2 separate regions of the Homo sapiens genome follow, and region 2 is linked to region 1. Evidence: fine-mapped expression QTL. A gene starts in region 1. The other region holds a variant in brackets. All regions are shown on one strand. Distances are between the middles of the regions. Region 1 holds the start of FCHO1 (FCH and mu domain containing endocytic adaptor 1). Region 2 overlaps FCHO1 (FCH and mu domain containing endocytic adaptor 1).

Region 1 (4,383 bases):
CCGGGACTTCTGTGAGTCACCCAAGACCTCCTACTTGCTCACCCAGACTAGAACAATGTCAGGGTCCCTGAGTTGATTCAGCCTCGGGCCTGGCCCTGCAGGAGTCCCCAGTCTAGAGAGACAGAGCTGGACACAGATATCACCGTCCTGCATGGTCAGGGCTGGGCCAGATGGAGGGACAAGGTCCAAAAGAACCTGGACTAAAGGAGGGCTCATGGGAGTTGGGGTTTTAAAGCATGAATAGGAGTTCACTGGGCAAGGAATTATTTGTTTCAACAAACATTCCCAACCCTGCACTGGTTAATGACAGGGCCCCTGAAAAACTTCAGTCCCCACCACACCCCCTTAGGAAACCTAGTTTGGTGGCAGGGGTAGGGTGGTGAGCATGCTACACTGACATCCCTAGGGGAAAAGCCCTAAATTTCCATATCATTTCTTAGCTTCTGTCCATGACCAGGACCCTAAGCATCTCCAAATCTCTTAGAGCTGTGCTGACTGGCATGGGAACCACTAGCCCCATGTGGTGACTTAATTTTTTTTTTTTTTGGAGACAGGGTCTCGCTCTGTTGCCCAGGCTGGAGTGCAGTGGTGCGATCATAGCTCACTGCAGCCTCCACCTCCCAGGCTCAAGGGAGCCTTGAATAGTAGCCTCCCGAGTAGCTGAGACTACAGGCTCACGCCTGAATAATTTTTGTATTAAGTTTTTTTTATTTTTTTATTTTTTCTGGAGACAGGTTCTTGCTCTGTCACCCAGGCTGGAGTGTGCAGTGGCATGATCACAGCTCATGGCAGCCTCGACTTCCCAGGCTCAAGTGATCCTCCCATCTCAGCCACCCGAGTAGCTGGGACTACATGTCTAACTAATTAAAAATAAATTTTTTTTTTTTTTTTTGTAGAGACTAGGTCTCACTAGTGTGGCCCAGGCCAGTCTCGAACTCCTGAGCTCAAGCCATCCTCCTGCCTGGGACCCCCAAAGTGCTGGGATTACAGCCATGAGCCACAACCCCTGGCCTTAATTTTTGTATTAATTTTTGTATTAATGTTAAACCAAGTAAAATTAAATACAATTGGCTGGGCGCAGTGGCTCACGCCTGTAATCCCAGCACTTTGGGAGGCCGAGGTGGGTGGATCACTTGAGGTCAGGAGTTCGAGACCTGCCTGGCCAACATGGTGAAACCCCATCTCTACCAAAAAATATAAAAATCAGCAGGGCGTGGTGGCACACACCTGTAGTCCCAGCTACTTGGGAGGATGAGGCAGGAGAATCACTTGAACCTGGGAGGCGGAGGTTGTAGTGAGCCAAGATTGCCCCACTGCACTCCAACCTGGTTGAAAGAGTGAGATTCTGTCTTAAAAAAATAATAATTAAATACATACATACATACATACATACATACATACAATTATATGCCCAGCTCCTCAGCTGTGCCAGCCTCTCTTCCAAGGCTCAGTAGCTACATGGGGCTGATGGCTGCTGTATTGGATGGCCAACATTGTTCTAGAAGATCCCAGGAACCAAGGAGCCCAAGTTCCCCAGAAACCAAGAATCTCACTACTGTTTTCACAGTTTCAATTAGATTGCCTCACCCCACCTCTGGCAGACAGATACACATGGAGCACCAGTATGTGTGCGACCCTGTACCCAACTATTCACACGCATCTGCTCATCCAATCTTCATGCCATGCCCTCAGAGGCAACCCCAACTTTATGAAGGAAACCGAGGCACAGAGAGATCAATCATTGGTCCCGGCTGACTGTGATTTTGCCCCTGGTCTGTCTGCCAATGACCTCCTGTTTGAAACCATCACGCGTGGCTCTCTGGGTTTCCAAGCTCCCCTTGCCGCCCCCCTAACCCAAACCACCACTCACAGCTGGAATGGGGGACGGGGGGCAGGGCAACGGGTGGCCCCATGCAGGCTTTGGCCAGCCCAGGAAGTGACACCTGCTACTTCTCCTGAAACCCAGGCTCCGGGCAGGGGGGCCTCCCCTCTGTTCCTGAGGGGGGCCAAGGCGAGATGATGGGTATCTACTGGCCAGGGCTCAAACTCACCGGACAGGGTAGCGAGTGGGATGGGGCCCCTGTCTGACGGGGCAGGCGCCAGGAGACAGCCACGAGGCCACTTCCGTCAGCACCAAGTTGGAGGCTTGTGTGCATGGGTTGGGGGGGGGACAGGAAGCTCACCCCGCCCCGCCTACCATCCAACCGCCACCTTTCCTCCCCCGCCCGATCAGCACCCATGGGACCTCCCTGGAACCACACAGGCCATGGGTGAGTAAACAAGAGGCGCTTGAACCTGGAGCCCCCCGGCCTGAACCTGGAGCTGTTCTTACCGAACAAATATTAATCATGGCAATTGGGAAATAACTGAGCACCAACCCTGGCCCAGGCATTCAACATCTTGCCATCCTGAGGTAGGCCGATACCCACTTCACAGACTGGGCAAACTGAGGCTCAGAGAGGGAAATGCGCTCAGAAAGGGGAAGACATGGCCAGGCGCGGTGGCTCACGCCTGTAATCCCAGCACTTTGAGAGGCCAAGGTGGGTGGATCACGAGGTCAAGAGGTTGACACTATCCTGGCCAACACGGTGAAACCCCGTCTCTACTAAAAATACAAAAATTAGCTGGGCGTGGTGGCCCATGCCTGTAGTCCCAGCTACTCAGGAGGCTGAGGCAGGAGAATCACTTGAACCCGGGAGGTGGAGGTTGCAGTGAGCCAGAGGTTGCAGTGAGCCGAGATTGCGCCACTGCACTCCAGCCTGGCGACAGAGCGAGACTCCATCTCAAAAAAAAAAAAAAAAGAAAAGAAAGGGGAAGACATTTTTGCATTCATGAGCGCTTTCCTTCACTACAAAAGAAATTTAAAATTATATTTTAGGTGGTGGCTGATGCCTGGAATCCCAGCACTTTGGGAGGCCGAGGCAGGTGGATTGCTTGAGCCCAGGAGTGCGAGAACAGCCTGGGCAACATGGTAAAACCCCGTCTCTACTAAAAATACAAAAGTTAGCTGGGTGGGGTGGCATATGCCTGTAATCCCAGCTACTCGGGAGGCTGAGGCAGGAGAATCGCTTGAACCCAGGAGATGGAGGTTGCAGTGAGCGGAGATCGAGCCACTGCACTCCAGCCTGGGTGACAGAGAGAGACTCTGTCTCAAAAACAAAACAAAACAAAACTGTATTTTACAACTACATTGACATAAAGACAAATATATTAATATTATACACAAAAATGTTTCCTTCAACCCAAGAGTTCATTTTTTTCCCTTTGGATTTTAAAAGAAGTGAAAACATCAACCTAGGGACCCCTAAAAGCACTGTGAGCCTGAGACACTGGGCATTTTGGGTCTGATGGAGAAGTCAGCCCTGCTAGAACCCAAGTCTCCCAGCCTGTACAGTACCAGCACAAAGCCCAGAGATGGCCGGAGACTTGCCCAAGGTTACACAGCACATTGCCAGCTGACTCAGAGGTCCCCATCCTGCCTTCCCGGCACCAAGTCTTGCAAACCTGGGGCTGAGACATGTGAGCAGCCCCAGAACAGATAAAACAAAGCAGGAACCACATCAGCAACAAAGGCAAGACCCGAGCTCCCATCCTGGGAATCGAGTGGTGCCTGGCTGGGTGTCCGGAGCCGCTGACGTCTTGCCTGATGACCTTGGGCCACTCCTGACCTTCCACGATCTGGCTTCCAGGATCCTGGGAAACAGGATCTCACATTTCCCTCTCTCTTGGACCCCAGTGTATGTACAGTAGGGCCAGTAGCAAGGGTTTTCTCATCCTTCCCACGGACCAGTCACTTGGTTCAAGCAGGTACCATGCTGTTTCAATGACCCACTATGTCATGTCTCCCCTCTTGGCCTCGCCACCTGGGCTGCGATCACAGACAATCTGGCTTGATTCTCGTCACCACACCTCAAGGCAGTATCTTATCTCAACCAGCACCACGATGGGGAAACTGAGACACGTGCCCCAGGTCACACAGTGACTCGGGCCACCAAGTGGGAATCTGAGCCAGGGATTCTCAGAAATTTTCTGTCCTCCCCATGGGTCCCCTCCCTCTTCCTCACTTCATTTGGCAAACATCTATTGAATGCCTACTGTGTACCCAACTTTCCCAGGTGCTGGAGTCTCCTCAGGCAATGCCTTTGATAGACTCCCCCTTCCCCTCCCTCCTCCTGGTCAGCTGTGACCCGATTTAAAGAGCACTAATACTGTCATTAATATTATAATAATCATGTCTGTATTTACAGAGCTTCCTCCTCCCACAGACTCCTCCCATCTTCCCAGAGGAATTCAGCCCATTTCACAGAAGAACAAACAAAGGCACCAAGGGAAAAACACACACACAGGTAGAGGCAAATTCAAACCTGGGGGTGTCAGACTCCC
Region 2 (4,383 bases), 28 kb before region 1:
TCCTGGGTGGGGCTGCCAGGCCCTCCCTGGCTGTGGGGTCAGCAGGTGCAGGCATCAGGTCTAGGAGCGAGTACAAAGAGGCACTGCTGAGATGCTGCCCGGGGCCTCTGGGGCCTCCCCAGGGGCACAAACTCAGCCAAAATCTTAGGAGGTGGGCTTTTCTGCAGAGACCCCCAATGGGTCTGAAGTCCTGGTGTTGCAGAAAAGGTGCCAGACAGGACTGCAGATACTGTCCACACCCCCAACCCTCCCAGACACCAGAATGGTGGCCCAATAAGGGGTGAGCTCCCCATCACTGGGGGTATGCAAGCAAGCACTGAAGGCTTAAGACGCAGGCATGCTGTAAGGGGGGTTCAGCAGAGGATTTTTAGCCAACATTCAGCCATTTTGTGACCTCTACCCTTTCCGAGAACCTGACTGCAGCCACCTACTGTGGTCTGTGTCTGAGTCTCATGCCTTTAACACCCAAGCTCCCCTCCCTCTCCTGCTTCCTCAGGGTCCTGGTTCTGTTCCATCTATGAACGTGCTCCCTTGCTTGCCAACCTCCCCTCCCACCTACCTCCCCTCTCACCTGTACCCCAAGCTGTGCTCCCCGCTCTACCCGACTTTCTCAGCCTCAGCACTGTGGATATTTGGGGGCTGGACCATTCTCGGGGGCGGGGGCTGCCCTGTGCACTGTAGGGTGCTGAGCAGCAACCCAGGCCTCCACCCACTGAATGCCAGGAGCACCACTCCTGCCTGGTGGTGACAACCAAAAATGTCTCCAGACACTGACAATGTCCCCTGGGGGGGCAGAATTTGCAGGGTTGGATAAGAGCCTCTACTCAGGCCGGGTGCGGTGGCTCACGCCTGTAATCTCAACACTTTGGGAGGCCGAGGCAGGCAGATCACCTGAGGTCAGGAGTTCGAGACCAGCCTGTCCAACATGGTGAAACCCCATCTCTACTAAAAATACAAAAATTAGCCACGTGTGGCGGTACGCACCTGTAGTCCCAGCTACTTGGGAGGCTGAGGCAGAAAACTGTTTGAACCTGGGAGGCAGAGGTTGCAGTGAGCCAAGATCACACCACTGCACTCCAGCCCGGGCAACAAGAGCAAAACTCCCTCTCAAAAAAAAAAAAAAAAAAAAGAGCTTCTTCTGCCCCCACTCTGTGGTCTCCACCCACTCAGCTCTCCCTTGAACGGGCTCCAGCCTGGCCCTTTCCTATGGAGGGTGCCAGGAGCCCTTGTTGACACTACTGGGGACCTCGGGTGGTCACAGCCCACAGTCCCTCTGACTCGGGGGCTTCCCATTCTCCTCAGACAGCCCCCAGGAGCCCATCCCGCCGCTCTCCCCCCATCTCCTGCTGTCCTCCTGTCTCCAACCCCTCTGGGCTCCCCGGCTGTCCTCTCCTCTGCTCTCCCTGGGCGGCTGCTCCTCCTGTTTTGATGACGTCTTCAAGGAGGGGGTGCTCTGACCTGACCTTCCCCACACTCAGGGTCCACTGTGCACCTGACACCTAAAGGCACAGCCTCGACGTCCCCCACCCCTCCCTGACTCCACCCCTTCCCCATCCTCCTCCCTCCCTTGTCTCCGCCCCTTCCCCATCCTCCTCCCTCCCTTGACTGTCCCTTCCCCATCCTCCTCCCTCCCTTGACTCCGCCCCTTCCCCATCCTCCTCCCTCCCTTGACTCCGCTCCTTCCCCATCCTCCTCCTTCCCTTGACTCCGCTCCTTCCCCATCCTCCTCCCTCCCTTGACTCCGCTCCTTCCCCATCCTTACTCCTCCGAACTCTCCCCTGCAGCGACCTTTCCACCTGCTTCTCCCACTGCCACCCTTACCCCCATCGCCTACTTGCCTCCCTGGTTGCCTCCCCAGTCTCTGGTTTCTGCCCTCACTCCCGAAGCTGCCAGAGGGAGCCTGTGACCCCTG[A/G]GTCAGGTCCCGCCCCTCCCCTGCTCATGGCCCTCAGCGTTACTCAGGGTAACATTCACAAGCCCTCCCTGGGCCCATCAGGCCCTTCCTGGTCCCTGCCTTCTCTTCTTCCTCCTTCCGTGATCACCCCGTTCCAGCAGGCAGACCTCCTTGCTGTTCTTCAGACAGGCCTAGCGCGCTCCTGCCCCAGGACCTTTGCAGGGGCTGTGCCCTCTGCCCAGCACGCCTTTCCCCTCATGTCCACGTGGTTCTGTCCTCACCTCCCTCAAATCTCAGCTCAGATGTCCCTTCCTCAGGGAGGGCCCCCACCTGGCACCCGCTACCGCCTGCCTTGCTAAATGTCCATCTCATTGTTGTCCCTGCAACGGTGGGAGGTTCTGCCTGCCTGGTCCTGGCTGTGTCTCCAGCAGCCTGATCAGGCCCTGCCCAAAGCAGGCGCTCAATCCCCCGCCCAGGGTTCCAGCAACTCTCAGGCCCAGGCCCGCTGGACTCACCTCCTCCGGCCAAGGCCTCCAGCCCCCAGGGGCCTGGAGACGAGGCGAGGGGCTGCGGCGAGTCTGGCAGAGGCGGTGCCCGGATACCCCTGGCCTCTGGGGGTGGCGCCCTACAGCTGGGCGGGCTCTGCGGGGTGCCTGGGCGGGGGACCCAGGAATCTGGGGAGGGGCCAGGTGCCGCGTGGGACGGAGAGTCCAGGCCGGAATCCTCCACGTTTTCGGGCGACGAGGAGGAGAAAGGGGAGGGGCTGGAGGTGAAGCCCAGGCTGCTAGAGCCTTGGGGAGGGAAGCGGGCGGTCAGCTCCGACCCTCGCCCACTCAGAGTCCCTGCCCATCCTCCTGCAGGCCACGGCCACGTCGAGGGAAGGTCAGGGGGGCCCCCATTCAAAGTCCTTGTGCACGCCCCCAAGGCTACACCTTCTGGTGACTTCCCTCTCCACAAATGTCCGGCCCATCCACTCAGTCACCGCCCACTGGCCAAGGCCCCACCCTATCTATGGCCCCTCCCACGCGCACTCTGGCCCCGCCCACCCCTACACGGACTAGTCCTCCCTCCAGCCTGGCTTCCAGGGGACCTCATTGGCCTAACTCTGCAATGGCCCCACCCAACCTCCCTCCGGCCACACCCATGCCCTCCAATCCCTTATCCCCATCACCTGTAAAATCTTCGTGGTCAAAGGCTGACTCCAGGGGCGGCCCAAAGAGGTTCTTGGACACCTGCTCCTCTGACTGCAATCTCTCTGCACAGCTAGAGAGGGTGAGGCCAAGAGGGCTGCTTCTATTTTTCCCAAGCCTCATCCCACCCTGGGGCCTTTGCACATGCTGTTCCCAGTCTTTTTTTTTTTTGAGACGGAGTCTTGCTCTGTCGGCCAGGCTGCAGTGCAGTGGCACGATCTCAGCTTGCTGCAACCTCCGCTTCCTGCGTTCAAGCGATTCTCCTGCCTCAGCCTCCAGAGTAGCTGGGATTACAGGCACCTGCCACCATGCCCGGCTAATTTTTGTATTTTTAGCAGAGACGGGGTTTTACCATGCTGGCCAGCCTGATCCCAAACTCCTGACCTCAAGTGATCTGGCTGCTTTGGCCAGTGCTGGGATTGCAGGTGTGAGCCACTGTGTGCAGCCTGTTCCCAGTCTGGAGTTCCATTTCCCCAGCTCTCTTCACAGTCACCTCCTAGCTCCTCTTTGGGGCTTAGCTCCAAGTCACCCCCTCAGGGAGGTTCCCAACCCCACCTCAAGGGAAGTCACCTCCTCCTGTCTTCGCGTCATCTGCTTTAGTTTCTTCGTAGCACTTAGAAGTATCGAATATGCTCTAACTTATTTGCTTTTTTTTTTTTTTTTTTTTTTTTTTTGAGACGGAGTTTCCTCTTGCTGCCCAGGCTGGAATGCAATGGCACAACAGTGGCTTACTGCAAGCTCCGCCTCCCAGGTTCAAGCGATTCTCCTGCCTCACCCTCTCGAATAGCTGGGATTACAGGCATGTGCCACCATGCCTGGCTAATGCTGTATTTTTAGTAGAGATGGGGTTTCTTTATGTTGGTCAGGCTGGTCTCGAACTCTCGACCTCAGGTGATCCGCCTGCCTTGGCCTCCCAAAGTGCTGGAATTACAGGCGTGAGCCGCCACGCCTGGCCCTATTTGCTATTCTTAAAATCTGGAGTCACTAGAATGTGACTCTGAGAAGGGAGACCTGTCTCAGAACCCAGACCCTAGAACAGCACAGGTACACAGCAGGCACTCAATAAATGTTCATCAAATGAATGACTAAATGGTCCCTCAAAAGCCAGCATGGGCCAGGCACAAGGGCTCATGCCTGTAATCCCAGCACTTTGGCAAGCCGAGGTGGGCAGATCACTTGAGGTCAGGAGTTCGAGACCAGCCGGGCCAACATGGTGAAACCCTGTCTCTACTAAAAATACAAAAGTTAGCTGGGCGTGGTGGTGGGTGCCTGTAATCTCAGCTACTTAGGAGGCTGAGGCAT

Evidence for each region. PIP is the estimated chance that this variant, and not a neighbour inherited with it, causes the effect.
Region 2: its variant is the best candidate, but not a certain one, in a credible set for the expression of FCHO1 in whole blood (TOPMed, PIP 0.86).

What each region holds. Positions count from the first base shown.
Region 1 is chr19:17,749,246-17,753,628 of GRCh38, reverse strand. FCHO1 (FCH and mu domain containing endocytic adaptor 1) reads right to left here and starts at 2,152. Exons shown (of 29, transcript NM_015122.3): 1 at 2,052-2,152. FCHO1-AS1 (FCHO1 antisense RNA 1) reads left to right here and starts at 2,232. Exons shown (of 5, transcript XR_007067152.1): 1 at 2,232-2,413; 2 at 2,879-2,971; 3 at 4,266-4,346.
Region 2 is chr19:17,776,908-17,781,290 of GRCh38, reverse strand. FCHO1 (FCH and mu domain containing endocytic adaptor 1) reads right to left here. Exons shown (of 29, transcript NM_015122.3): 19 at 3,063-3,154; 20 at 2,407-2,682; 21 at 1-60. Among named protein-coding and RNA genes, the nearest start is that of B3GNT3, 16 kb to the left of the region's middle. The variant A/G (reference allele first, on the strand shown) is at 1,913.